5 separate regions of the Homo sapiens genome follow, and all the other regions are linked to region 3. The links come from fine-mapping of genetic effects on gene expression. A gene starts in region 3. Each other region holds a variant in brackets. All regions are shown on one strand. Distances are from middle to middle. Region 1 holds the start of ARHGAP45 (Rho GTPase activating protein 45). Region 2 overlaps ARID3A (AT-rich interaction domain 3A). Region 3 holds the start of POLR2E (RNA polymerase II, I and III subunit E). Region 4 overlaps CSNK1G2 (casein kinase 1 gamma 2). Region 5 overlaps BSG (basigin (Ok blood group)).

The links. PIP is the estimated chance that this variant, and not a neighbour inherited with it, causes the effect.
Region 1: its variant is fine-mapped to the expression of POLR2E in whole blood (TOPMed, PIP 0.97).
Region 2: its variant is fine-mapped to the expression of POLR2E in pancreas (GTEx, PIP 0.98).
Region 4: its variant is fine-mapped to the expression of POLR2E in aorta (GTEx, PIP 0.99).
Region 5: its variant is fine-mapped to the expression of POLR2E in sigmoid colon (GTEx, PIP 0.98).

Annotation. Positions count from the first base shown.
Region 1 is chr19:1,063,768-1,069,563 of GRCh38, forward strand. ABCA7 (ATP binding cassette subfamily A member 7) reads left to right here. Exons shown (of 47, transcript NM_019112.4): 44 at 1-96; 45 at 394-486; 46 at 1,164-1,404; 47 at 1,503-1,805. The coding sequence ends at 1,658. It overlaps ARHGAP45 (Rho GTPase activating protein 45), which reads left to right and starts at 3,400. Exons shown (of 23, transcript NM_012292.5): 1 at 3,400-3,728; 2 at 4,647-4,977. The coding sequence starts at 3,639. RefSeq lists enhancers at 1-256, 2,843-3,349, 5,540-5,699 and silencers at 1,320-1,369, 3,210-3,969, 4,280-4,519, 5,050-5,149. The variant G/C (reference allele first, on the strand shown) is at 3,170.
Region 2 is chr19:952,947-958,742 of GRCh38, forward strand. The region is part of intron 3 of ARID3A (AT-rich interaction domain 3A); the gene reads left to right. Among named protein-coding and RNA genes, the nearest start is that of WDR18, 28 kb to the right of the region's middle. RefSeq lists enhancers at 1-120, 121-822, 2,227-2,928, 3,631-4,332 and silencers at 804-1,012, 2,218-2,477, 4,708-4,900. The variant C/G (reference allele first, on the strand shown) is at 3,282.
Region 3 is chr19:1,093,427-1,098,426 of GRCh38, forward strand. POLR2E (RNA polymerase II, I and III subunit E) reads right to left here and starts at 1,949. Exons shown (of 8, transcript NM_002695.5): 1 at 1,833-1,949; 2 at 478-652. The coding sequence starts at 1,889. RefSeq lists enhancers at 600-1,135, 1,893-1,982.
Region 4 is chr19:1,944,894-1,950,689 of GRCh38, forward strand. All of the region lies in intron 1 of CSNK1G2 (casein kinase 1 gamma 2), which reads left to right. Among named protein-coding and RNA genes, the nearest start is that of CSNK1G2, 6.6 kb to the left of the region's middle. RefSeq lists an enhancer at 2,106-2,826. The variant C/T (reference allele first, on the strand shown) is at 3,412.
Region 5 is chr19:574,835-579,834 of GRCh38, forward strand. It overlaps BSG (basigin (Ok blood group)), which reads left to right. Exons shown (of 9, transcript NM_001728.4): 2 at 2,940-3,287; 3 at 4,666-4,822. Among named protein-coding and RNA genes, the nearest start is that of BSG, 4.7 kb to the left of the region's middle. The variant G/C (reference allele first, on the strand shown) is at 2,323.

The DNA of each region.
Region 1 (5,796 bases), 29 kb before region 3:
GACCACAGGCATGGACCCCAGCGCGCGGCGCTTCCTTTGGAACAGCCTTTTGGCCGTGGTGCGGGAGGGCCGTTCAGTGATGCTCACCTCCCATAGGTGGGCCGGGCTCTGATGCCCTGGGCTGTGGTTAAGGTGATCCAGGCCTGGAGAGAGAGCCCCAAAGCACAAGGCCACAGGGGATGGGGGGTCCTGGCCCTAGTGGGGCGAGGGCGCCAGGCCCCGGGGTGTAAGGACACACAGAGGTGGGACGCGGCGCCGGGATCAGAACGGTCTGGGGAAGAGTGGGGAGATGTCCACACCAGAAGGGTGGCCCAGGCCGGGGGAAGCAGGCAGTGTGGCGCCAGGCACAGGTGGCCCCGGCCTCACGGAGCTCGTGGTGCCGGGTCCCGACAGCATGGAGGAGTGTGAAGCGCTCTGCTCGCGCCTGGCCATCATGGTGAATGGGCGGTTCCGCTGCCTGGGCAGCCCGCAACATCTCAAGGGCAGGTGAGCCGGCGCGGCCTCCAGGCAGGTGTGGGGTGAGGGTGGGCACGTAGGTAGGCTCAGGGGAGAGGCCAGACGTAGAGCCGGGTGAGGAAAGTTTGGCTCCAACTGGAGAGATGGCCAAGGCTTTAGATTGTCCTGCAGGGGTGACTGAGGGGGCGAGACAGGCTGGGGTGTGCTGGGGGCGCAGGACCAGGAGGCGTGAGCCGGGGGCTCTGGGTGGATTTAGAAGACACAATCAGGTGTGCGTTGGAGTAGGTGCAGCCTGGAGAGGTGAGGGTGGATTGATGGGTGGAGTTAGGGGAGGGCCTGGTTAGTGGGCGGGGCCATAGGAAAGTGGGGCGGGGGTATTTATTGTGTGGGCGGGGGTAGAGTGCAAGGGCGAAAGAGGAGTGTCCGAAAAAGGAGTCAAGTGGGGTGATAGCTTCGAGAGCAACCTGGGCAACCTAGGGAGACCCCATCTCTATAAAAAATTTAAAAATTAGCTGGACATGGTGGTGTGTGCCTGTGGTCTCAGCTACGCGGGCGGGGGGTGGCGGGGGACTGAGACGGGAGGACCACTTGATCGCTAGGGTAGTACAAGTATGGGGCGGGGCCAGAGAGTATTAGGGGCTGGAGGGTGAGCTGAGGTGGGACCTGGGAAAGGCCCGATCCGGTAGCCCTGGCCCCACTCACTGCAGATTCGCGGCGGGTCACACACTGACCCTGCGGGTGCCCGCCGCAAGGTCCCAGCCGGCAGCGGCCTTCGTGGCGGCCGAGTTCCCTGGGGCGGAGCTGCGCGAGGCACATGGAGGCCGCCTGCGCTTCCAGCTGCCGCCGGGAGGGCGCTGCGCCCTGGCGCGCGTCTTTGGAGAGCTGGCGGTGCACGGCGCAGAGCACGGCGTGGAGGACTTTTCCGTGAGCCAGACGATGCTGGAGGAGGTGATCACGGCGCCGGGGTCGGGCTGGGGGAGGCAGGCTGGGGGCCAGGCCCGTGGGCTGACCGTCCCTCTTGTCCCCTCTGGGCTGCCCACCGCTAGGTATTCTTGTACTTCTCCAAGGACCAGGGGAAGGACGAGGACACCGAAGAGCAGAAGGAGGCAGGAGTGGGAGTGGACCCCGCGCCAGGCCTGCAGCACCCCAAACGCGTCAGCCAGTTCCTCGATGACCCTAGCACTGCCGAGACTGTGCTCTGAGCCTCCCTCCCCTGCGGGGCCGCGGGGAGGCCCTGGGAATGGCAAGGGCAAGGTAGAGTGCCTAGGAGCCCTGGACTCAGGCTGGCAGAGGGGCTGGTGCCCTGGAGAAAATAAAGAGAAGGCTGGAGAGAAGCCGTGGTGGTGAAACCGTGTGCATGTGTGTCCTTGAGCCAGGCTGCACACATGTCCACACAGCTGCCTGCACATGCGTCTGGATATGGCTGGCCCCTTGCAAGCTGAGTGTGCACATACGGGCCAAGTGGCGATTCATAGGACACAGGTGTGAGCGTGCCTACAGCTGACCGGATCCCAGCTGTAAATGCCTCTGTGGCCAGCCCAGGAGTTGGGGATGTGAGTGCGGGCCTCATAAGGGCCTGGTCACACCGTCCCTGTCCCCACGTCCCTGCGTGCCTATGTGGGGCTGGCGCCTAAGGGCGGTACCTGTAAGTGCCTGGCCATAAAGTGGGGATGAGGTCAGGACTCAGGAATGTCCTGGGAAGCTTACAGGAGCCCGGTGTCCCGGAGCACAGGCCAGGGCCGGGCCAGAAGCCCATCCGACATCCAGCTGACCCTCACCCTCTGACCCCAGCCCTCAGCGCCATGAGTCGGGGGCAAAGAGTTCTCAAGGGTCTGCTGGGCTGGGTTTGCACTTGGACCTGGGCCTGGAGAGCCAGACTTGGAGCAAGGGGCTGTGGCCTTCATGTCCTGTGCCCCAGAGATCTGCCCCTCCCACCCGAGGTAGGTGGGAATGGGGTTTGGGAAAGGAAAGAGGTTGGGGTTTTGGGATTGGGGGTGGGGTTCTGGAAGGGGACAGCAGGGAGACTTGGGGAGGGGGGAGAGAGTTCACACTGCGGGGTGGGGGTTGGGGGAAGGTAGGAGGCTGGGATCTGTATGCCTGCAGATGCCCCAGCTCTTGGCCAATGCCGCCTCAGGCTGTTATCAGCAACGGGTGCCTGCGTCCTGCTGCCCAGCACGTCCGGTGGTCCAGAGTCACTGGAATGCAGCTTGGGAGGCGGGGCTGGGGACCTTAGCTAAGGGCAGGTCTGGGGCAACATGATATGGCCCACAGGGCTGCTGAGAGGTAACCAGGTGTCCTCAGCATATTCTGCCGATGGTGGGGTCCACACCACACTTTGGGGACCCCTGTGCAGGCAGCCCAGGACCAGGTGGACGTGGGGACCCAGACGGACGTGGGGACCCAGACGGACAGGGCCCGGTAACCTGGATTGTTCTGACTTCCTGGACGTCTTTGCCCCCAGGGTTTCGGTTCTGGGCCTCAGTTTCCCCACCTGTCCTCGACCTGACCCACTTCACGGGGCTGCAGGGCGGGTGATGGGGGGGACCCTACTCTGCCCGGCCCTGCTGGGGCCCGGCCACACCCTAGGGTCTGCAGGAGAGGCGGTGGAGCGGGCTTGCCTTCAGGGAAAAGGGGGCTGCAGGGGCGCAGCTTCGGCCTGTGCGTGTGTCTGGGGTCTGAGGGCGAGGCTCCAGGGGCTTGGTGGCGTCTGAGC[G/C]CGTGTGGAGGTCCGGGTCTCTGCGTGTCATCGTGCACGTGTCTGTGCACGCCCACTCGCGTCCGGGAGTGAGAGTCAGCGCCCTGCAGTCGGCCGCCCCGTGCCCGCCAGCGTCAGGCAGGGGCTCCCGGTCCCACCCCGCGAGCGGCGCGGCTCCGAGCTCCCGAAGGCGGAAGCGGGGGGCGCGGCCCGGGGCTGGGGGCGGGGCCTGCGACCTCACCTTCGCGCCCACTCCGCAGAGCCGCAGGCTGAGGCCGGGAAGGGTCGGGGGCGAGGCCGCGTCGCCGCCTCCCCGAAGCCTTTTCCTGTTGGGGGGAGGGCCCGCCAGTGACGGCCGGGCCTGTCACGTGGGCCTGACAGCTGGGGAGGGGGTGGCCGGCGACAATGTGGTCCCGAAGCGGCCAGCGCCGGGAGCTGCAGCGCTGAGACCCCCAGCCCGCCCCCTCGGGCTCCCGGCCGGGGCCCCATCATGTTCTCCAGGAAGAAACGAGAGCTCATGAAAACCCCTTCCATCTCGAAAAAGAACCGCGCGGGAAGCCCCAGCCCGCAGCCCTCGGGGGTGAGTGGAGCCCGGGTGAGACCCGGAGCTGACGCCGGGCCGCAGGGGGACAGGGACCCGCCCTGTGCTCGGGGCTCATGCTGGGGCGGCGGCTGGGGGCTCGTGCCAGCTACAGCCCCTACCGGGCGGGACGGCAGGGGCCACAGCAGAGAGGCCGGGACCCCGGCATTCAGCTCACGGTAGGGACCCTGGGAGTGGTGGCCGCCTCCCTCCACTCCATCCAGGGCTGGCCGCGGGGCCCAGGGAGCAGGAAGGGAGGGTGCCGGGTTGGGACGATGTTGTGTTTGGGCCGCTGCAGGTTGGGGGCTTAGGCAATCTGGGGGCTCTAGGGGCCGTTGAGATGGGAGGGCTGTGGCCTGGCCATTGGGCTGAAGGTTGACCGGGCAGCAGATCCTCTAATGGGATCCACCAGGTTCAGAGGTTGGGGAGTGTCCCCAGGCCTGGGGTGTCTACAAAGCTGGGGGGGGGGTCTACAGAGCTTGGGGGTCCGGGATGTCTACAAGGCCTGGGGCTGCCCATAGGCTCTGGGGTTCCATGGACCTTTAGGGGACAGACAGAGTCAGAAGTGTGTTCACTTAAAGCACCTGCGTTGTAGGAGCCTGAGGGGGGCTTGAAGGGCTGAGGACCCTCCCCACCCCCACCAGGAAGTGGGGACCCCCCTCCCGCGCCTCCCCGCAGGCCCCGCCCCGGCTGTGGTTTGGGCAAGGACCGTTGTTTGTGAAAGCTCTAGGGAAGAGGATGTTGGGTAACAGGTGGGGGGGTACACTACCAAATCTCGGCCCTGTGACCTCTGGCCTTTGACCCCTGTGGGGTCAGGGTGATGGTGGCCCTCCACAGCCCCACTTCATTTCTGGGGAAACTGAGGCCGTGTCCAGGCCGGAAAATCCCTTTAACGAGCTCCCCTCGGACCTGCCCAAGGAGCTGCCCAGGAAGGATGGGGCTGACGCGGTGTTCCCCGGACCAAGCCTGGAGCCGCCCGCTGGGTCCTCCGGCGTCAAGGCCACAGGGACCCTCAAGCGGCCCACCAGCCTGAGCCGCCACGCCAGCGCGGCTGGCTTCCCCCTGTCGGGTGCTGCCTCCTGGACACTGGGCCGGAGCCACCGGAGCCCACTGACAGCCGCCAGCCCGGGCGAGCTGCCCACCGAGGGTGCCGGCCCGGACGTCGTCGAGGACATCTCCCATCTGCTGGCGGACGTGGCCCGCTTCGCTGAGGGCCTTGAGAAACTTAAGGAGTGTGTGTTGCGTGACGGTGAGAGCCACGGGGACACCGAGGCCTGGGTGGAAGACAGAGCCAGACCCAAGGGAGGATGGAGGGAGGGACTTGGGGAGGCTCAGAAGGGAGGGAGGCTCAGATGGCAGGGAGGGCTGTGTGGAAGAGGCCATGACAGCTAAGGCTCTGAGGGATGTGTAGGAGTTTGGTGGGGGAGTCCCTGAGCGTACACTGGCTCAAGAGGGTGCCCACTTTATTTTTTTTAAAGGATCTGATGGCAATTAGGAGGGAAAGGCAGAGGAAATGTCCCATGCACAGGCTCAGAAACACGGAAACAGAGAATGCATTTGGGGGCCAAGGTGTGGGGTGCCGCTGGTGTAGGATGAAGGCATGACAACGCCAGGCAGAAGGGCAATGGGGAGCCATAGAAGGTGTTAGAGCACAGGACAGATGGGGGCAGATCTGTGTCTTGGAATGAAGCAAACTGGGGGTTGGCTGAGGTCTGGGTGGAGAGAGATTCAGGAGGCATGGCGAGGGGCAGGATGGGGTCATCAGGCGGCGGAGGTGCTGGGACCCAGCGGCCTGCAGGCCGGCAGTTCCGTTTTCTCCTCCACGCGGCCGCTGACAGCCCTGCTTCCTGCCGAGTTATTTTCATCTGCTTCCTGTTTGTCCCTGGCAGCCCAGGCGGGCACCTCATGTGCTGCCTTCAGCCCCCGGCTCCTCCCAGAAACCACAGTGCCAGGGTCATGCCAGGCGCTCTGATCTGCTCCCAGCAGCCGCCCATTTTACAGATGACGAAACTAAGTCTCTAGTGAGGCCCTGACCCCTGGCTCACCCAGCCAGGGCAGGGCAGAGCCA
Region 2 (5,796 bases), 140 kb before region 3:
CCTGTGACCTTGGGCACTGCTGGGGGAGGGGCCGCATGTGCTGGCCCCGGCCACCCTCTTCTGTCCTGGCCAACCCTTTCCTTGGATTTTCTGCAAACCTCTGGGGTCTTTTTCTGACCTTCCTCCCACCTCCCAGAGCCGGTGGGCTGGGGAGGGGAGTCCTGAGCCGGGGCTGAACTCCCTGGTTCTAGGGGTGGTCCGGGCAGCCGGGGAACCCCCTCCCCACTCCCAGGTGGCCCTGGGACTTATCTTGCACCCTGTCCGCCAGCAGACTCCACTGACCCCCTCGGAGCTGTCGTTTCTCTGGGAGGTGGGGTGGAGAAAATCATCAACGTTTCGCCACAAACAAGAATTTCCTGTTTGCCCTTCCAGGGCTGGGGGGTGGCGGTTATCTCACTTTTTCCTCCCCTCCCCCACCGGCGCCACCACCCGAGCCCCGCCACCCTCTCTCCTCACAGGTGCCCCCTCCAGAGGGGCCCGGTCCTCATCAGGTGGGGGCGGCACCTCCCACCCCCCCAGGCCTCCCACACCCCCCCCCGTGCAGAGCCGGGGGAGTGTCAGGGTCGGGGGCCACAGCGTCTTCCCTCCATCCCCAGAGCCACGGAGTGTGTCTTGCAGATCCGTGTAACGGGGCTCGGGCGTGCAACCTTCTGGGAAGAAAACCAAAGAGGAATGAAGGGGTCAGAGGCTGAGGGGGGCTGTGGAGGGGGCTCTGTCAGAAGGCGACGTTTGGGCGGGAAGGCAGGAGCCGAGCGGGGACCCGGGAGCTGCATTCCAGGCAGAAGGAACAGCGCCGCGGAGGCCCTGGGGTGGGGGCCTGTGCGTTTTACATAGAAAGACGCCAAGGCTGGGTCTGGGGGCTCCTGCCTGTAATCCCAGCGCTGTGGGAGGCTGAGGCAGGAGGATCACTTAAGGCCAGGAGTTTGAGACCAGCCTGAGCAATATAGCAAGACCTTGTCTCTATAGAAATACAAAAATTAGCCGAGCGTGGTGGTGCCTGCCTGTGGTCTCATTGGCTCAGGAGACCGAGGTGGGAGGTGGAGGCTGCAGTGAGCTAGGGTCTCACCACTGCACTCCAGCCTGAGTGACAGAGCGAGACCCTGTCCCTAAATAGGGCAGCTCAAGGCCGGGGCGGAGGGAGCAGGAGAGGGCAGGGAGGGGCCAGGAGGGTGCTGGGGGGCCCTGGGAGGCTGTGGCCGAGGGAGGGTCATGCTCAGATGTCTGTGAAAAACCCCCCACCCCACCCAACTGCTGAGTGGGGAAGGGTCTGGCAGGAGGGGCGGCCGGGGGACCTGGAGGTGGCTTGGCTCCACGCGCTCTGTGCCTCGGTTTCCCCTTCTCCGAAGCAGGTGGTGCTGGGAAGGGGAGACGATGGGCCCAGCCTTGGTAATTAGGGGTCCACACCTTCCATCCCCCACAGCAGGAAGTGGACAGAGGGGAGGGGACCCCCTCAGGGAAAGACCCCCAGGCCTGCCCTGTGGCCCCGCATTTTCTTGGCATCGCACTGAGAAAGCAAGTTCATTTAACATGCATTTATTAGGCAACTGCTGTGTGCCCGATTTTGGATGCTGGCAACAAGATAAGAATTCCGCATGTTCCAGGGCAGACAGACGAGAGACAAATGCGTGAATCCACACAGCTGGGGCCATGCGAGGGCTGGGGGTCCAAGGGGGGCCGTGAGCCAGAAACCCCGTGAGGCCGGTGGTCGGTAAAGGTGGGTGGGAGCAGAGCATCTGCGGAGGTGATATCGGTCCTGGGAGGACGGGGGGCTCCCCTCCAGGGAGGGAATGACCACAGGGGACCCAGACGAAGGGAAGGGGCTGAGAAGGCCTCGCAGACGGGAGGAACAGCCGGGGCGAAGGCGGCCGCTCGGGGCTGATGGGGGGCGGTGGGGGTCTCAGCGGAGGGGCACCTTCAGAACTTCACACCCGACCCCTCCCGTGATCAGAGCAGGCCCCAGGGAGGTCAGGCGGCGTGGAGGGGAGTGCGGGCCGCTTATCTCGGCCCTCAGCCCCTGGGGAGGGAGTTTCCGGAGATTTTGCCCAATCTCCAGCCTGGGTTTAGGGCTCCTGTGGGTGTGTGGTGGGCGGCTGATTTCAGAGCTTTCTGGTTGACGTTTCAGAGGGGCAGGGTTTCGGCCACAGAACCCAGGTGAGAACCAAGGCCTGGGTTTGCCATGGGGTGTGCTGTGGCCCAGCAGTTCAACCCGGGATCTGGCCCACAAGGGGGGCCTGGACACCGCCATGGGCAGCCTGGACACCGTCCCCTGCTTTCCCATCCCTGGGGCCTCGGCCAGCTGGCCAGGGCGGGGCGCCCCCCACAGGGGAGCGGAACCGGGGGCCAGAGACCCATAAAGCCCAGGCGGCCTTTACTGCTGGCTTTGTTGCTGGCTGCCCACAGCAACGGCCATTAGAGCCGCCTCCCCCGCCAGCAGCTGGGGCCCCCGCAGGTCCTCCCTTTACTGCCACGCATCAGTGCCCCGGCCCCACAGGGGTCTGACCGTGCCTCGCCACCGGCCCAGTTCGCCCACCATTTGGCCTGGGAGTTAATGGCTCCCCTCTCCAACCCCAACCTTGGCTGGCTGTACATGGGGCAGCTGATTGCTGCCTGGCGCCTCGGTTTCCCCATCCGGGATGTGAGGGTAGCTGGGGCGCCAGGTGCTTGGGGTAAAGCTGCTGTGTTTTCTCACACACTCTATTTGAGAGATGGGGAAACTGAGGCAGGAGGTGCGGTGAGGTTTCTTGTAGGGGCTGTGCCAGGGAAGGGGGGGTCCAGGCAGGGTAGACCCCGTAATACCGGGTCAGAATCTCAGAGGAGAGGACCTTCCGCTCGCCCTGGAAGGGCCCAAGGTGTGCTGGCCTCTACGTGCGGTTCTTAGCCGGGGGGCTGCGTAACGAAGGACCTCAAACCGCGGGCGTAAAACAAACGAAACCTGTTCTCCCTCCGTCCTGGAGCCCAGAGTCCAAAATCGAGGCGTCCGCAGGGCTGCGCTCCCTCCAGGGGCTGCAGGAGGAGCCTTCCGCCTCTCCCAGCTCCTGGGGGCTCCAGGAGTCCCTTGACATGTGGCCGGCCTCTGTCTCTGTGCGACCGTCTCCAGTGCCCACCGGCCTTCACTGTGACTTTTTCTCAATTTGATCACGTCTGCAAAGGCCCTTTTTCCAAATAACGTCTCGTTCTGAGGTTCTGGGCCGATGTGAATTTGGGTGGGGGATGGCGTTCACCCCAGGACAGCCCCAGCGGTGAAGTCCTCCCCATTCCAGTACCTGCTGCCTCAGGCGTTT[C/G]CCTGGCAAGCTCGTCCTGTCCCCCTCTCCGCCCTGTCCCCCTCTCCGCCCTGCCCGGCTCACTTTTGCAGCTGAGAAAATCAAGGTTCAAGTAACGAGCATTTATTAGGCAACTGCTGTGTGCTCGGCTGATTCCAGACTCTGGGAACAAAACAGACTAAACCCCAGATACACTCCTAGATCCGTGACTCGGTGATGGACGGGGTCTCGGAGGAAGAACGTGGAGGGGAGGGGGCGGCAGCCGGGCCGGGGTCAGAGGACGAGGCCGGGCGTGTGGCCATGTGTGCGTGCCTGTGCTCATGGGACCCACCGGCCCGGCCAGCCGGGTCTACCTGAGGGCCCCACACCCCTCAGGCAGCTGAAGGGGAAAGGGCCTCCCCGGCCACCATAAATCAGCGCAGGAATGCAGGCTGGCCAGTCTGGCGCTGGCCGGGTTGGGGCGGAGACAAAGACCAGGCAGCTGGACCTCGGGCAGCCTCGACCACCCAGGGCAGAGGTCAGGACTCCTGGCTGCCCCCCCAGCCCCTTCCCGGAAGGCCTCACTGGGCCTCCAATACACAGACGGGGAAACTGAGGCCCAGAGAGGGGCAGGACGGCTGCAGGGTGATGGGGCCTTTGGCCGGCCTCCCCAGCACCTGGGATGTCCCCGCAGCAGCAGGGGCTGGGCGTGGGTCTCCTTCTGGGCCCTAATGACCGATCATCCCAGCTGAGGCCTAATTGGTGGTTTCAAGGCTCCCCACTGCCCAGCCAGCCACATTCCCCCGAGCTTAATTGGCAGCCTGGTATTTGTCGCAGCTCCTCCTCGGCAAATTGGCCCCCGCCTGAACTCCGCTTTCTAATTATCCCTGCCGGCTTTCCCCCACCCTGCCCGCCCGAACCTGTGGGTGGGGGGGGGCGCTGGGGGACCTCCTGGCTCCTTGTACCCCAGACGGAGCCTCTTTCCCCTCTGGAAGACGTTCCGGGGCCTGGTGATCTTCTTCCTCCCCAGCCACCACCCTGGCAGGCAGAGGCGGTCGGTGGCTCATTTCATAGCTGGAGGCTGAGACTCCAGGCTCCAGGTGCGGGGAAGCCAGCAGGAGACAGGAGGACCGGGATGGGAAGCAGGGCGGGGCTCTGGGCCAAGTCCCCAGCAGCCCCCAGGCTCTGGTCCCGCACTCGCCGCTGTGTCTCAGTTTCCTCACCTGCAAAGCAGAGCCAGTTCTCGGAACAAATGCGCTCCCGTCCGACCCTCAGGACAGCCCCGGGAGGCATGCTGGTGAATTTTTGCAGCGATTTGCTGTGTGAACTCAGGCAGGCACTGTCCTAGGGTAAATTGTGTCCCCCAAAGAAAAGGTGGAGGGCGGTGGCTCCCGCCTGTGACCCCAGCACTTTGAGAAGGCAACACGTGAGGATCGAGGGAGCCCAGGAGGTCGAGACCAGCCAGGGCAACATAGAAAGACCCATCTCTACAAAAGAAAATGTAAAAACTTAGCCGGGTGTGATGGCGAGTGCCTGTGGTCCCAGCCACTTGGGCAGCTGAGGCAGGAGAATCCCTTGAGCCCAGGAGGTTGAGGCTGCAGTGAGCTATGATTGCGCCACTGCACTCCAGGCTGGGCAACAGAGTGAGACCCTGTCTCCAAAAACAAACAAAAAAAAGACTTTGGGAGGCTGTGGCAGGCGGATCACTTGAGGTCAGGAGTTCAAGACCAGCCTCGCCAAATAGTGAAACCCTGTCTCTACCCAAAAAATACAAAAATTAGCTGGGCATAGTGGCAGGTGCCTGTAATCCCAGCTACTCAGGAGGCTGAGGGGGGAGAATTGCTTGAGCCCCGGAGACAGAGGTTGCAGCGAGCTGAGATTGCGCCATTGCACTCCAGCCTGGGCGACAGAGCGAGACTCCATCTAAAAATAATAATAATAAAAATTAAAATTAAAAAAAAAAATAGGCTGGGCGCAGTGGCTCATGCCCATAATCCCAGCACTTTAGGAGACTGAGGCAGTCGGATCACGAGGTCAGGAGACCATCCTGGCCAAATGGTGAAACTCCGTCTCTACTAAAAATACAAAAAAATTAGCCGGGCGTGGTGGCGGGCGCCTGTAGTCCCAGCTACTCCAAGAGGCTGAGGCAGGAGAATGGCGTGAACCCGGGAGGTGGAGCTTGCAGTGGGCCAAGATCGCGCCACTGCACTCCAGCCTGGGCGACAGAGCGAGACTCCATCTCAAAAAAAAAAAAAAAAAAGAAGAAAGAAAAAGAAAAGAAGAGGACAGGTTCAAGCACTGGATTCCCAGTACCTGTGACAGGACCTCATTTGGAAACGGGGGAACTTACTGACATACAATCACGTGTTGACACTTTGGTCAACCTCAGACCGCAGATGGGACGGTGGTCCCACAGGATTAGAATTCCATATTTCTAGTGGCTCACGCCTGTAATCCCAGCACTTTGGGAGGCCGAGGCGGGCGGATCACGAGGTCAGGAGATCGAGACCATCCTGGCTAACACGGTGAAGCCCCGTCTCTACTAAAAATACAAAAA
Region 3 (5,000 bases):
ACAAGCTCGAGGGACGAGTACCGGACGCTGACAGGGGAGAGGGGGCATGGGGTGCGGAGGAATGGGCTGGGGCGGGCAGGGGCCGCAGCTCACAAGGAGGCTGCGCTGACCCAGACGGGGCCTCCTGGGCCAGGCCAAGAAGCTGGAAGTGCACCCAACGGCCAGGATGGGGGAGCCAAGGGACACTAGGGCAAAGGACATGGGGGGCTGGGGGTGAGTGGGGAGGCCCTTGTGACTCTCCTCGTTGGCAGGAAGAGAGAAGGGGACTGAGAGGGAAACTAGAAAGAAGCTGAGCATGAGAGGGGTCAGAGATCAACGGCATCACCCACAGCAAGGAAGGGGAGGGGAGTTTTCCTCCCAGACTGGGCAGAGAGACAAATGCTGGGCACCAGGCGAGTGGGGGTGGGTGCTAGCGACCGGCTCCTCGGCAGGTGCTCTGGTGGCTTCACCGGAACTCCCCCGGGACCCGCTGCTCACCTGGAAAGAACACAAACATCTGGTCGGTGGGGTCATCGTTGTGGGCCACCAGCACGGTGAGGTCCGTGCGCCGCGGCCGCCCCTCACTCGGCTTGTCCCCAGATTGGGCTTTGAACTCCTCCAGGGTCTGGTCAAGCTCGTCCTGGGTCACCAGATAGCCACGGTCGTGGCACAGCTGCAGAGAGAAAGAACCAGCTGACCCCAGGGCAGAGAGAGGAAGGCGGCCAAAGCTCGTGACCCGGAAGTCAGACCTGCGGCTGCTGCAGAGGACAGAGGTGAACAGCAAACGGGATGAACACTCACTGTGTGCTCCATGACAGCCACCCCGGCCCCCACAGCCTCACACCACAGGATGGGACCAGTATGATCCTGAGAGGCTCCCAGAGATGTCCAGCCTTGACCAAGACCGTCTGTCCACCCAGCCTCACAGAAACCTGGCAGGGAGCAAAGCCCTCCAAACCACTTTGCAGAGCTACCCTAAAGGCAGGGACAAAGGCGGGGCGCGGAGGCTCACGCCCGTGATCCCAGTACTTAGGGAGGCTGAGGCAGGAGGGTTGCTGGAGGCCAGTTCAAGGATGCAGTGAGCTATGATTGCACCACTGCACTGCAGCCTGGGCGACAGAATGAAACCCTATCTCTTAAAAAAAAAAAATGACAGGGACCGAAACAGATGTGACTTCAGGCTGACAATGTTTGAGGATCGGAGAAAGAAGAATCAGGCTGCGGGGGGCTTCGCTGAGGACAAGGGCAAAGGGTGGGAAGCAAGACAAAGCAAAAGCTCTCAAACGGCCCCAATGGCTGAGGCAATACCCTGAACCGCAGGTCCTCAGGCCTGTGCCCGGCTTCCAAACCGGACTCGACCCAGTGGCCTCCATCTGCCCCAGACCCCAAGGCACGGGTTCCGAGCTCCACGTCCCCATCGAAAGCCCCAGCTCGCCCGCTGCTTCCCAACCACCAACTCTGCCAGCCTCGGATGCTGAAGACTCCATGGGGTTCAGGACGCAAGGACAAATAGCGACGCTGAATCACAGAGAAGGGCAGAGTCTGGGGGCGCCCCCCGTCCCCATTCGCGGCTTCCTCCTCCTCTCGCCGCCACGCGCGCCGCACCAGCCCAAGCCGCCCACCCACCCCTAAGCACCGCACCCAGACGTCTCGAAACCCCCTCCCTTCCCCGCTGCCGGCTCAGGTCGGGTCCAGCGCCTGGTATCCCCGGCGACCTCTGGGCCTCCCGTATCGGCCCGGCCCTTCATCGCTGCTGCTCCGACGAGAGTACGAGGAGACGCCGTGCTCGACCCCACCTCGGGCCCCTACACCCGCCGCCCGCGCCCCCGCCCCCAACACCAGGCGCGGCTCACCTGCATGATGGTCTTGCGGATTTTCCAGAGCCGGTACGTCTCCTCCTCGTCGTCCATGGCAGCCTCCGCCGCCGCCGCCGCTCGCACCCCTTCTCCGCGCGAGAACCCGCGCGGACTGCGCCTGCGCCGAATCCGAATCAGGCCCCCTCCGCCTAACCCCGCCCCGCGCTGGTCTGTCGTCGGCGAATGCCTGAATGCAGCAACGTCTCGGATCGGCAGCGCCAAGGGCAGCCCGAGCCTTACGAGAGCGGCAGTTGGCTGAGCGAGTCTCTCGCCTCCGTAGTTCTCGTGTGTCTTTGGCCGCACAGCCTCTCGGGAGTTGTAGTTTCCGTTCAACTCCCACCTTGGAGCAACAGTTTAGAATCCCACGAGGCGGGGGCGAAGTGTGAGCGGGGAAACTGAGGCCTGGATGGGGTCAAGGGGCAGCTCGGCTCCTAGGGATGGTCTGGGAGCCTAGTGGGAACTCTATAAATATTTGTGCATCAAACTGTACAGGGTTTCCTCCATTGGCTCCTGGCCAGGTCAGGGTTAATTCCCTTGGGCCTCAGTTTCCCTACCTGTGCAATGGCAATAAAGTGTCCCTACTTTAGACGGTTAACTGAGAGTCTTAGGCATCTCTCTAGGTGCTTATTAAGTCCCCTCACCTCTGTCCTCTCCCCTGAGCGCCACCAGCCTAGCCTGGGTATCTCCCCAGCCTAGCCTGGGTATCTCCCCACCCCAGACTCTTCCTGTCTTTGCAAACCTCCTCACTTCCCCAGGTTCACGGAGAACCCCAGCCCAACACTTCCTGTGTGCAGGCTATCAGTAACTTATTCAGTGATGCATTCGTTAATTCAACATTTACTCAGCAACCTACAGTGATGGTGAATAAAACAGGCCAAGTATCCCTTGCATTCAGATAAAGACAGGATTTAGTAAAATATAATAAATAACGTGGCCGGGCGCGGTGGCTCATGCCTATAATCCCAGCACTTTGGGAGGCTGAGGCGGGCAGAGCATGAGATCAGGAGTTCAAGACCATCCTGGCTAACACGGTGAAACCCCGTCTCTACTAAAAATACAAAAAATTAGCTGGGCCAGGTGGCAGGTGCCTGTAGTCTCAGCTACTTAGGAGGCTAAGGCAGGAGAATCTCGTGAACCTGTAAGGTGGAGGTTTCAGTGAGCCAAGATCGTGCCACTGCACTCCAGCCTGGACAACAGAGCAAGACTCTGTCTCAAAAATAAAATGAAATGAAATAAAATAAAATAAATAACAACGTTAGAAAGTGACAAAGCTACGGAAGAAGAAAGAGCAGGGAGGCTAAGTGACATGGGGAGAATGGGAGAACTGCAGTATCACATGGGGAGGTCAGGGAATACAGTGAGGATAGATTCAAGCAAAAATCCCATTAGCAGTGGTGGCTCATCACTGTAATCCCAGCACTTTGGGTGGCCGAGGCAGGCAGAGCATGAGATCAGGAGTTCCAGACCAGCTTGGCCAACATGGTGAAACCCTGTCTCTACTAAAAATACAAAAATTAGCCAGGTTTGGTGGTGGGTGCCTGTACTCCCAGTTACTCGGGAGGCTGAGGCAGGAGAATCACTTGAACCCGGGAGGCGGAGGTTGCAGTGAGCCGAGATCGCACCACTGCACTCCAGCCTGGGTGACAGAGCAAGACTCCATCGAGAAAAAAAAAAAAAAATCCCATTGGGCGCGATAGCTCACACCTGTAATCCCAGCACTTTGGGAAGCTGAGAGGGGAGGATCCCTTTGTTGTAGTTTTGTAATTTTTAGTTGTAAGTCACGGACTTTTTTACACTGATATTTGAGATTCTTTTTGGGGGGCTGTCAGGGGCTACTTTTTTTTTTTTTCCTGACACGGAATCTCGCTCTGTCCCCCAGGCTGGAGTGCAGTGGCAGGATCTCGGCTCACTGCAAGCTCCACCTCCCGGGTTCACGCCATTCTTCTGCCTCAGCCTCCCGAGTAGCTGGGACTACAGGCACCTGCCACCACGCCCGGCTAATTTTTTGTATTTTTAGTAGAGACGGGGTTTCACCGTGTTAGCCAGGATGGTCTCCATCTCCTGCCCTCATGATCCGCCCGCCTCGGCCTCCCAAAGTGCTGGGATTACAGGTGTGAGCCACCCCGCCCGGTCTGTGCAGGCTTTCTTATCTAACTACCTAACTTTTCTTTCTCACCTTGAGGCCAGGAGTTTGAGACAAGCCTAGGCAACATAGGAAGACCCCATTTCTTTTTTGTTGTTGTTGTTGTTTTTTGAGACCGAGTCTCGCTCTGTTGCCCAGGCTGGAGTACAGTGGCATAATCTCAGCTCACTGCAGCCTCCGCCTCCTGGGTTTAAAGGATTCTCCTGCCTTGGCCTCCCGAGTAGCTGGGATTACAGGCGTGAGCCACCACACCTGGCTAATTTTTTTGTATTTTTGGTAGAGATGGGGTTTCACCATGTTAGCCAGGCTGGTCTTGAACTTCTGACCTCAGATCATCTGCTTGCCTCGGCCTTCCGAAGTGCTGAGATTACAGGCGTGAGCCACCGCACCCGGCCAGGAAGACCCCATTTCTACAAAAAAATTTAAAAATTAGCTGGGCGTGGTGGGCGCACCTGTAGTCCCAGTTACTCGGGAGGCTGAGGTGGGAAGATCTAGGATCGCCTGAGCCCAGCGGTTGAGGCTGCAGTGAGCTGTGATTGCGCCACTGCACTCTAGCCTGGGCGACAGAGCAAGACACTGTCTCCAAACAAACAGAAAACAAACAAAAACCAGAAGAGGAGAGGGAGGAAACCTGGGGTTGCCTGGGGATAGCTGTATCAGGCAGACAGCACAGCCAGGATAGAGGCTCTGGGGCTGTGCCTCACCTGGAGTGTTCCTGGCAGGGAAGGGGCAGGAGGGGGTCAGAGGGCAAGGTGGGGCAGGTCCCATGAAGCCTTGCTGGTCAGGGTAAAATGTCTGGAGCTGCTGTGTTGGGAAATGACTGTTGGGAGCCAGGGCAGAAGCAAGAGACCAGGGAGGGAGTGGGAAGGCAAACTTGCCACAGGTTGGGGTGGCTCCAACTACGGTAGGGGCAAGCACAGAGCGGGGAGGGTGCCACAGGGCGAGAAAAAGAGGGAGAAAGGGAACAAAGCTGTCCCTGTGAGCAGTGAAAAGAGGGGTGGGAGGGTGGAGGCGTGTAGGTC
Region 4 (5,796 bases), 850 kb after region 3:
TCCTGTAGTGGGGCAGGAACCTCTAGCATCCCACCCTTGCTGCCCTTTTTCTGCCCCGCTCACCACCCACATCAACTTGTCACCAGCAAGGGCATGGGACAAAGCAGGACATGCCCCGGGTGGCCAGCGTGAGCTAGCTGTGCCCAGGAGCATTGCCCATGCTGTCCCCCAGGCACTGTCCTGAAGCCCTGCTGGGTTCTGAGTCCTCCAGGCTCCGCGGCCCCTTCTCGCCCTGCCCAGAGTCTCTGGCCACCACCGCTGCTTGGGGCCCTGCACCAGCCTGTGCGCCCGCAAGGTTGCCAGGGCCCCTCTGCAGGTGCAGCGTGAGCTGTGTCCTGGGCCCACAGGGGAGCCGCTTCTCAGACCCCCGGGCTGGCCCCAGGCTCCCCCGGCAGCACTCAGGCGGCCCTGGCCCCCGGTGCGGCTGACTGTTCGGGGCACGCGTCTGAGGTGTGGGGATCATCTCCCCCTTGCTCAGAGCCCCCAACGTGTCCCCTGCACAGGGAATCGGGGCAGCCCCCTGCCAGCCCTGCCCAGGGATCCCTCCTGTCACCCTCAGGCGTGCTCCTGGGTGGCCCAGCGGCCTCCCTGCACCGTGAGGCCCGAGACAGTTTCGCGTGACATCATGTTGAAAACAGCCAGCTCTGGCCGGGCGCGGGGGCTCCCACCTGTCATCCCAGCACTTTGGGAGGCCGAGGTGGGCGGATCACCTGAGGTCAGGAGTTCAAGACTAGTCTGGCCAACATGGCAAAACCCCATCTCCACTAAAAATACAAAAATTAGCCGGGCGTGGTGGCGTGCGCCCATAATCCCAGCTACTCGAGAGGCTGAGGCAGGAGAATCACTTGAACCCGGGAGGTGGAGGTTTTAGTGAGCCAGGATCGCGCCACTGCACTCCAGCCTGGGCAACAGAGCGAGACTCCGTCTCAAAAAAAAAAAAAAAAAAAGCTGGTTCTCCCTTGATGCGCATCTGCTGAACTTCTGGGGCACGCTGGGGTAGAGCAGTGGGTCCCTCCCTGGAGAGGCCATGGGGTGAGGACCGAAGCTGTGGGTGCCAAGTGGGGCAGGCAGCCCAGTGGAGTGGGGCAAGAGACTCTGGTCTGGCCGGCCTGACCCGTGGGGTATGACTCTTGTTACGGCAGATTCCATCTAGGAGCGGAGGCCACGCGTATGTTCCCGGGAGAGGTGGGAAGTGCATCCCGTGGCCTATCCCGGGGAGGTCACTCCCATTCCATACCTGCAGGGGGAGCTAGCTGCCTCACGTCTGTGTCTCAGGCCGCGCAGAGGAGGGGGCGCAGGTGAGGGCAGCGGGAAGAAAGACTGCAAGAGGCTCGGGGGTCACGGGCCAGGGCTGGCCCATCACTATTTATTCGTTTATTTATTTATTTATTTATTTTTTATTTATTTATTTTTTTTAAGATGGAGTCTTGCACTGTTGCCCAGGCTGGAGTGCAGTGGCCCGATCTCAGCTCACTGCAAGCTCCGCCTCTTGGGTTCACGCCATTCTCCTGCCTCAGCTTCCCGAGTAGCTGGGACTACAGGCGACCGCCACCACGCCTGGCTAGTTTTTTGTACTTTTAGTAGAGACGGGGTTTCACCGTGTTAGCCAGGATGGTCTCGATCTCCTGACCTCGTGATCTGCCCGCCTCGGCCTCCCAAAGTGCTGGGATTACAGGCGTGAGCCACCGCGCCCGGCTATTTATTTATTTATTTATTATTATTATTATTATTTTCTTTGAGATGGAGTCTCGCTCTGTTGCCCAGGCTAGAGTGCAGTGGCGCAATCTTGGCTCACTGCAAGCTCCGCCTCCCGGGTTCACGCCATTCTCCTGCCTCAGCCTCTCCAGCAGCTGGGACTACAGGTACATGCCATCACGCCTGGCTAATTTTTGTATTTTTAGTACAGACGGGGTTTCACTGTGTTAGCCAGGATGGTCTCCATCTCCTGACCTTGTGATCTGCCCGCCTCGGCCTCTCAAAGTGCTGGGATTACAGGCATGAGCCACTGTGCCCGGCCTATTCATTTATTTATTTAGAGACAGAGTCTCGCTCTGTTGTCCATGTTGGCCAAGCTGGTCTTGAACTCCTGACCTCAGGTGATCCACCTGCTTCAGCCTCCCTCATAGCTGGGATTACAGGCGTGAGCCACCGTGCCCGGCCCTATCGCTATTTAAAAGGCAGAGAAAATCTTAGAGGTTTTTTTATTGTCACCAGCGGTGTTTCGTTGATGCGTAATTGCCTTTGGAGGCTTGAAAAAAGTTGTGCTTAAAGGTAATCCCTCAATTATCTGGAAACTTCCACCCTCCAGAGTGAGGCACCCCAAGTCCTGGTCTGGATTCGTGGACAGAGTCCCTGCCTGTGAGGCCTGATGGCCAGTCCTCTCGCCTTGGCCGTGGTGCTTCAGGCCCTGTTGCAGGTGGGACCCGCCCTCCTTAGGGACCTTGTTTCCCAGGTGATGCTCATGTAATCTGCGGTGACCTCTGCCCCTTCCCATCTGACCTCTGTCCCCAGGAAAGATGGCAGGCGTGCGAGGGCTCATCCTGTCCGCGGCAGTTGTGCCCCTCGGGCTTCTGCTCCAGTGGTCCTGGGGCAGGGCAGCTGGCGCTGATGCCCAGGCTCTGCCTGGGGACAGTTCCCAGGACGGGAGCCTGAGGGCAGCGCACGGGACCAGCGTGAGGACACGGACTGGCCCGTGTCTGCCTCTGACTTGCTGGGTGTGCCTTTGAGTTCCTCTGAGGGTGGGTGCGCCGAGGGGGATCCAGCTGGGCCCTGGCCACGTGCAGGCCAGCCAGAGCCCTGGAGCCTGCAGGTGGGCTGGGACAGGGCTTGCGACCGCAGGGGTGGTGTGCGTTTGCGCTGGCGTCTGCACAGGTGTGTGCGTGCTGTGCCATCACGCTGGTCAGGCCTGTACGCCGTGGAGAGGGGCGCTGTGTGGGGCTCGCTGCCTGAGCCCTGGGTGGACCGTGGCTGCCCCATGAGTTGTCGGGGACCTCCGCTGCCCCTTGGACCTCGCCCGCGGCCCTGGGCAATGGGTGTGGTGACGTCCTGGGGCCCCCATGAGTCAGCTCGTCCTCGTGCCCGGGCACTGGCCTCTCCTTCCTGTGGGCGCACAGCCCCGGTTCCTCTGAAAGCTTCGTGGGCCGGGACCCGGGATGAGCTGGTTAAACCCTGGCCCTGTGAGCAGGAGGTGTGGCTTCGGGGGGCGGCCCCGCCCTGGGCTCAGACTTGATCCTGCACCGGAGGGAGCCATTCTGGAAGGCCGCTGCCCCGGGCCCTGTCCCTCCCCCTCTCATCCCCAGGGTGCTGGCCAGAGCCGGGCTCACAGCGTTTCTTAAAATTAACGATCCCGGCCGGGCGTGGTGGCTCACGCCTGTAATCCCAGCACTTTGGGAGGCCGAGGCGGGTGGATCA[C/T]GAGGTCAGGAGATCGAGACCATCCTGGCTAACACAGTGAAACCCCGTCTCTACTAAAAAGACAAAAAATTAGCCGGGCGCGGTGGCAGGCGCCTGTACTCCCAGCTACTCGGGAGGCTGAGGGAGGAGAATGGCATGAACCCGGGAGGCGAAGCTTACAGTGAGCTGAGACCGCGCCATTGCACTCCATGTGGGCGACAGAGTGAGACTCCGTCTCAAAAAAAAAAAAAAAAAACGCAAAAAAAAAAAAGATCCCGTCACACTGACCCAGCTCACTGTTCTCTTACCAGCCTTATTTCGGTGTGGTCCTTAGAGCATGAGCCACTTTTTTTTGCTGGGAACATAATCCACGTTTGGTAAAATTCGGCAACGTGTGCACGCAAGTGGTTTTTGTACAGCTGACCCTTGAGCAGGGTGGGGTTTAGGGCAGCAGCCCCTCATGTAGCAAAATACCCTCGTATAGCTTTCGAGTCCTCCAGATGCCGCTGCCGACAGCCTGCTGGTGACCAGAGGCCTCGGGAGGACACGTGGTCCGCGCACACATACCTCGTGTGTTGTGTTAGGTGCTGCGTTCTCACAGTGAGGGAAGCTGGAGACCAGAACATGTGGAGAAAAGCAGAAGGAAGAGAAACCCTGTTTGCTCTTCACGCAGTGGAAGTAATGCTCATGGAAGCCTCTGTCCTCGTCGTGTTCACGTTGAGGGCTGAGGAAGGGAGGGTGGGTCTCGCTGTCTCGGGTGGCAGAGCGGGAAGGAGCCAGGAGAGGCTGGCGCCCTCAGGGCAACCTTTATTGAAAAAATCCACGTCAGAGTGGACCTGTCAGTTCAAACCTGCCGTGGTCAAGGCTCCTCTGTGAGTGCAGCCACCACCTGTAATTCCAGAGTGTTCTCATCACCTGCAAAGGGAGCCCTGGCCCCATCAGCAGCCAGCCTTCCACACCATCCTTTCCAGAACCTTCCCACCTTCCCAAATTGAGACGCTGTCTTCGTGAAACGTTCACTCCCGTGCCCTCTCCAGCCCCTGGCACCCCCATCCTACTTTCTGGCTCTGTGACTCTGAGGGCTCCAGGGACCTCCTAGGGGTGGAATCACACGGGATGAGGCCTGGTGTGTTTGGCGTCTCTCACTGAGTGTGACACCCTCGGTGCATCCGCGCCATGGCCCGCGTCCGAGTCTCGCTCCTGTTCGTGGCTGAGTCGTGTTCCGGCGTGTGGGTGGCCACGTGTTTATTTCTGTGATAGATGTTTGCATGGCATCCGCGTGTGGCTGCTGCGAGCACCCGTGTCCGGTTCCCGTGTGGCTGCGTGATTCTTCTGTCAGGTGGACTTCTAGCGGTGGAACCGCTGGTCACAGGGCCACTCCCGGTTGGACCATTTGAGGAGCCGCAGACGGCCATCCATACCTGCACTGTTTGGGTCCCCTGCCGGGTTTTGGGGACTGGATCTCTGCACAGCGACGACCACTCCCCTCTTCCGGTGACTTGGTTTCTCCTGTCCTTCGGCCCGATGCTTCTCTGGCCTGCAGGGCATCAGGGACCCTGCTGTCCTGATCCCCATGCCGTCTAGAAAGCCAGGGGTCCTGCATGTGCCCGGTGTCCCCACTGCCTTGTCAGGCACAGGGCCAGATCCTGCACCCTGTGACGAGCACGGCCAGTGGGACAGACAGATGGATGTGCTGCCCGTGACCTTCGCCACAGCGAGTTCAGAGGCCGGAGGCATCCAGTGTCCACAGAGTGACCGGTAGGCCCCAGCCCCACAGGATCATCGAGGTGGCCCTGGCCTTTCGAGGCCACAAAAATCAACGTTTATTTTTATTTATTTTATTTATTTATATATTTATTTATATATTTATTTATGAGACGGAGTCTCGCTCTGTCCCCCAGGCTGGAGTGTGGTGGCGTGAGCTCTGCTCACTGCAAGCTCTGCCTCCCGGGTTCACACCATTCTCCTGCCTCAGCCTCCCGAGTAGCTGGGACTACAGGCACCCGCCACCACACCCAGCTAATTGTTTGTATTTTTAGTAGAGACGGGGTTTCACTGTGTTTGCCAGGATGGTCTTGATCTCCAGACCTCGTGATCCGCCCTCCTCGGCCTCCCAAAGTGCTGGGATTACAGGCGTGAGCCACCGCGCCTGGCCATCAATGTTTATTTTTAAGTAGCAAAAGAGAACTCAGCAGTGTTGGAGAACTTGAACATTACAGCAACATCTGAAGAAGATGTTCTTTCACAAACCTCAGATTCCAGGAGATGAGCACCGTCCGCTTTCCAGAGAAAATTGTCTGAGGCCTCTGGGAGACAGGAGGGGGTGCACTTAGAAACAGCCAAGGCCTCCTTCCATGTTGGGACGGACGGGCCTTCCTGGGCTGGCCCGGCCTAAATCTGCTGCCG
Region 5 (5,000 bases), 520 kb before region 3:
AGCTCTCTGGGGAGACACAGATAGGAGCCCATGGGTGAGGTGAGCGCGGAAGATAAGCCGCCCCCGCCAGCCCTGTGGAAACCCAGCCAGGCCTGACTGGGTTTCAAGCACAGCACGAGGTTCCCACATTGAGCTAATTTGGACAGCCAAGTGGGTGAAAGACCTTTGGTCTCTCCCTGCTGGGTAGGGTGGTTCACAGTTTTGTTCCTTTTGTGCATTTGTGCAGGAGACTGAGAAGGGTTTCTTCTGAGCAGAAAGCTTAGCCTGGGGCTTACTGGCCAGAGCTGCCTGCAGCCTGGGAAGCAGGTGGAGTCTGCAGTGCTGGCAGCGCCGCCGTGCAGCGGTGTAGCCGTGTGTGCGCGTGTGTGTGTGTGGTGAGAAACCCCACTTTTGCTGGGGACTGACTCGTGAAGACCACAAGGTCTGGGCAACACAGCCTTGGCCCGTGTGGGGTGGACACTGCTGTTTGCTCTGTGAATTCGTGACTGTGTTTGCCTCTCCTGAAACTTGCTTCAGGGGCGTCTGCGGGTTGGTGGGGCACAGCCGGGTGGGGTGAGTGCCCAAGGTTGGCCGTCCGCGTCTCCTGTGGGCTTGTCGGGGACCGGAGGGCCGGGGTGTGCTAGCTGGGTCCCGAGGGTGGAGGGCTTCACCCCCGAGCCTCAGATGAGAGGAGTGGGAGTGCCTGGCTGCGGCCGGTGGGGGTGGGTGGGGGAGGTGCCCGAGGCTGCTTCCCAGAGCTGTTCTCGCTGGCTGCTGTCTGAGCACTGGGGTGGGTGGGGAGGAGGGCGGGTGGGGGCGGGCAGCCTTATCCTGCGGGGCTGCTTGTGTACAAGTACCACGCGGCCTGCCTGGCCCTGAGCCCTGGGCAAGGAGGCGGAGGCTGTTTTTAGATGAAGGTGACTTTACTTGAGAACATGGGTTACGTCTCATGTGGCCAGAATCGAATTCTAACCTTTCTGGGGCTGTGGCCGAGGGTCAGGCGCCGTCCCTCCTCCTGCTGCTCATGGGTGGAGGCTCCTGGTGCGGCGGGCGAGATGGGGTGGTCCGTGGGGTGGGGGCGCTCTGCATTGTCCCCGAGGAGCCTCTATGGAGGCTTTCTCTTCCGGACGCCCCCCCACCCCCAGTGACACGTCAATACACAGACACCAGCATCATCAGCATCCGGAGGGACACAGGGTTGTTCCATCCAAAGCCTTTTGGTCCCTTTGGGAGCGATGCTGCCCGCTGAGAAGCTGGCGGACCCAGCGGGAGCACCGGGACCGGTGCAGATGGCGCCTGGGAGCCCGGGACTCCTGGAAAGGTGGCTGGGGGCAGCTCGGCTGCGGGCCCCACCTGGTCCTCCTCACTTTCCTGTGTGCCCTGCCCTGCCTGGAGGTGGGGTGAGGTGAGTCAGGGGCCAGCCCTCTCCTAGCACCCCTGGGTGAGGAGGATGTGGAGCCCAGCCCTGCAGGTCTGGAGGATGAGGAGAGGGGCTGCTGCAGGGCAGGAAGGAGCTTGCCAGCTGGGCAGCCTCTGGCTGTGCTTCCTGCCCTGACTCACCTCGCCCAGCTCTGCACATAGCTGCCAGTGTTGCAGTCTGGGAAATCTTAACTCCCAAGAAATGTAGGTTACCAGGAGGAGATCCCTTTGTGAAAATGGCACTGCCAGCCAGGCGCGGTGGCTCACGCCTGTAATCCCAGCACTTTGGGAGGCCCAAGAGGGTGGATCACGAGGTCAGGGGTTCAATACCAGCCTGGCCAAAATGGTGAAACCCCGTCTCTACTAAAAATACAAAATATTAGCTGAGTGTGGTGGCAGGCACCTGTAATCCCAGCTACTTGGGAGGCTGAGGCAGGAGAATTGCTTGAACCCGGGAGGCAGAGGTTGCGGTGAGCTGAGATTACACCACTGCTGAACAGAGTGAGACTCTGTCTCAAAAAAAAAAAAAAGAAGAAGAGGAGAAAGAAAATGGCGCTGCCAAAACTTGTCAACTGCGCCTGCCCAGAGCTCACCTGAGGTGCTCAGACGTGAACATTCCTGTCCCCGTGGCCTTGGGGGCCGTGACCTGTGCACTGCCACGCAGCCTCGGAGCCGTGTGCACGCATATGCACGTGTGTATGTGTTGTGTGTGTTTGCAGACGTGTGTCCTTGTGTGTGTGTGTGTGTTGTAGCGGTGCCTGGGGAGTCTGACCTCAGAAGGTGCTGTGGGGAGGGCTGCAAGGTCCTGGCGGGAGGAGGCACTCCCCACGCTTCCCCTTGGGCTGGGCTGTTCCTGGCAGGCGAGTGCTAGGCACAGTGTGAGGTTCTGTGTGGATTCTGCTGTGCTCCTTGGCAGCTCTGGGG[G/C]CCTTCCCTTGCATTTCGAAGGAAGGGGAGGCGTGTGGCTGGAGGTGAGAGGCCCTGAGGCCCTGCCTGGCTCCCAGCTTCCCAAATCCGCCTCTCTCTGGGTCGCCGCCCTCAGAGATTGCTGAGGACACGAGCTTTCCACCCACGGGCTGTCCTAACGGAGCCGGGCTAGGGGCTTCTGGACAGAGGCCGCCTGCCCCTTTGGGCTTTGGGGTTTGTTTTTCTCAGCAGCTCACCCGGGTCTCTGGGGTCAGGGTATCGGGCAGAAGTCAGAGGACGGTGCGCTTGGGACCTGAGCTCTGGGCAGCCCTCGGGGCTCAGGACTCCTGGCTCTTCTGCCCAGTTTCATGTGTTTTGTGTTTTGAAACCACGTGTGGTCCCACAGTTGTGCCCTCAGAAGCCGCCGTGGCTGCCGTGAGGTAGCAGTGGACGGGACGCCCACGGTCTTTCCCATGCCATGCTGTTTCCAGCCGGGCCCCATCACTCTCCCACAAGCTGAAAGGAAGTGGCTTCTCCACCAGCCCTGGCTGGGAGTCCTGTGGGCGAGGCCTTCCCCAGGAGCTGCCCTCCCAAGTGCCCCAGGCACTAACAAGACCCCACGCGTGCTCTCCCCACAGCCGGCTTCGTCCAGGCGCCGCTGTCCCAGCAGAGGTGGGTGGGGGGCAGTGTGGAGCTGCACTGCGAGGCCGTGGGCAGCCCGGTGCCCGAGATCCAGTGGTGGTTTGAAGGGCAGGGTCCCAACGACACCTGCTCCCAGCTCTGGGACGGCGCCCGGCTGGACCGCGTCCACATCCACGCCACCTACCACCAGCACGCGGCCAGCACCATCTCCATCGACACGCTCGTGGAGGAGGACACGGGCACTTACGAGTGCCGGGCCAGCAACGACCCGGATCGCAACCACCTGACCCGGGCGCCCAGGGTCAAGTGGGTCCGCGCCCAGGCAGTCGTGCTAGTCCTGGAACGTGAGTGGCGGGCACCTCCCTCCCCGCCTCCCTCAGTTTCCCTCCTGTGCCGCTCGCCTCCCGGCTCCTGCTCAGTAGAACCCAGACGCCTCCTCCCCTCTCCGTCCCGCTGTGCCCCGTTGGGCCCACCGCCTGGACGGAGGGGCCCGGACCTGAAGGGGGTGGGCTCGCCGCCTGACCACCAGCGCTGGGCGGCCTGGCTCGGGGCAGGCAGGGCTCTGCCCTCCAGCAGGTGGGTCCTCGTCCTCCCCTCGACCCTCGTGCCATCCGTTCCGTCGTTTCTGCTTCCCCGGGCGCCTGCCCGGCTCCCTCCCTGAGCGTCCATACTGCAAGCCTGAGGGGCCCTCCAAGCTCAGCCCAGGCTTGCAGGTCTCAGAACCTTCTGTGTCCTTCGCAGCATCTCGTTCTAAGGGATTTTCAAATTTCAATTCCTAGCGGGAATATTGTAAACTAACCAAGAACCAAGAGATTTGCTTGGTTGGGGATTGGCAGAAGAACCGGGGTGCTCCCAGCACTGCTGGAGTGCCGTCAGCCTGGGGCTGGGGGGATGTGGGGCCACCTGAGTGCCTCCTAGAGAAGGGCACGGGAGCCTTGGCCGGGGGTGCTGTGGCTATTTTTTTTTTTTTTCCTGGAGATGGAGTCTTGCTGTTCCCAGGTGGAGTGTGGTGGCACAATCTCGGCTCACTGCAACTTCCGCCTCCCGGGTTCAAGCGATTCTTCTGCCTCAGCCTCCTGAGTAGCTGGGATTACAGGCATGAGCCAACATGCCCAGCTAATTTTTTGTATTTTTAGAAGAGACGGGGTTTCACCGTGTTAGCCAGGATGGTCTCGATCTCCCGACCTCGAGATCCACCCGCCTTGGCCTCCCAAAGTGCTGGGATTACAGGCGTGAGCCTCCGCGCCCGGCCACCACCGCGCCCAGCTGGCTACGTTTTTAGAAAAGAATTTCCAGTTTGTGCTGGGGCTGCTACAAGAGCTCGATGCCCTGGTCCCTGCTCAGGGACGTGGGTGGGTGCCTTGTCTGTCCCCACACCCTGGTCCCAGCCTCGTGTGTCTCTGGGCAGGAACATCGCCAGGCGGGGCCTCTGGGTTCCCAGCGCCTTAGCCCAGGGCCCGCCAGCTGCCAGCGAAGGGTGCCTTCCCGAAGGGGGTGCCTTCCCGAAGGGGCCTCCTCAGCAGGCGCTGGGCTCTTCCCTTCCCGGAGGCGTGGCCAGAAGTTCCCCTTGGGCCTCCGGTCCTCGGGGCGTAAGGGCCACGGTGTATTTTTGGGATGAAAACCAGTCCTTCCCGGGGAGGAGCCGCAGGTTCCTGGGGGTCAGGCAGGCAGCGCGGGCCGTGCTCCTCCACTCTGCTGACCGCGTCTCGCCGGGCCTTGCAGCCGGCACAGTCTTCACTACCGTAGAAGACCTTGGCTCCAAGATACTCCTCACCTGCTCCTTGAATGACAGCGCCACAGAGGTCACAGGGCACCGCTGGCTGAAGGGGGGCGTGGTGCTGAAGGAGGACGCGCTGCCCGGCCAGAAAACGGAGTTCAAGTGAGTGCCTGACCACGCCATGCCGCCACCTGCCCCTTCTCACGGCTCTCTTGCCGCCAGCGGCCTGTGGTCCGTGAGAACAAAAGACCGGTCGGCAGGCTTGATCCAGGCGGAAGTTAGGGACCAGCTCCGCGCAGACCCCCAGAGGGAAACCCCAGGGAGGGGTCTGAGGGGCGTC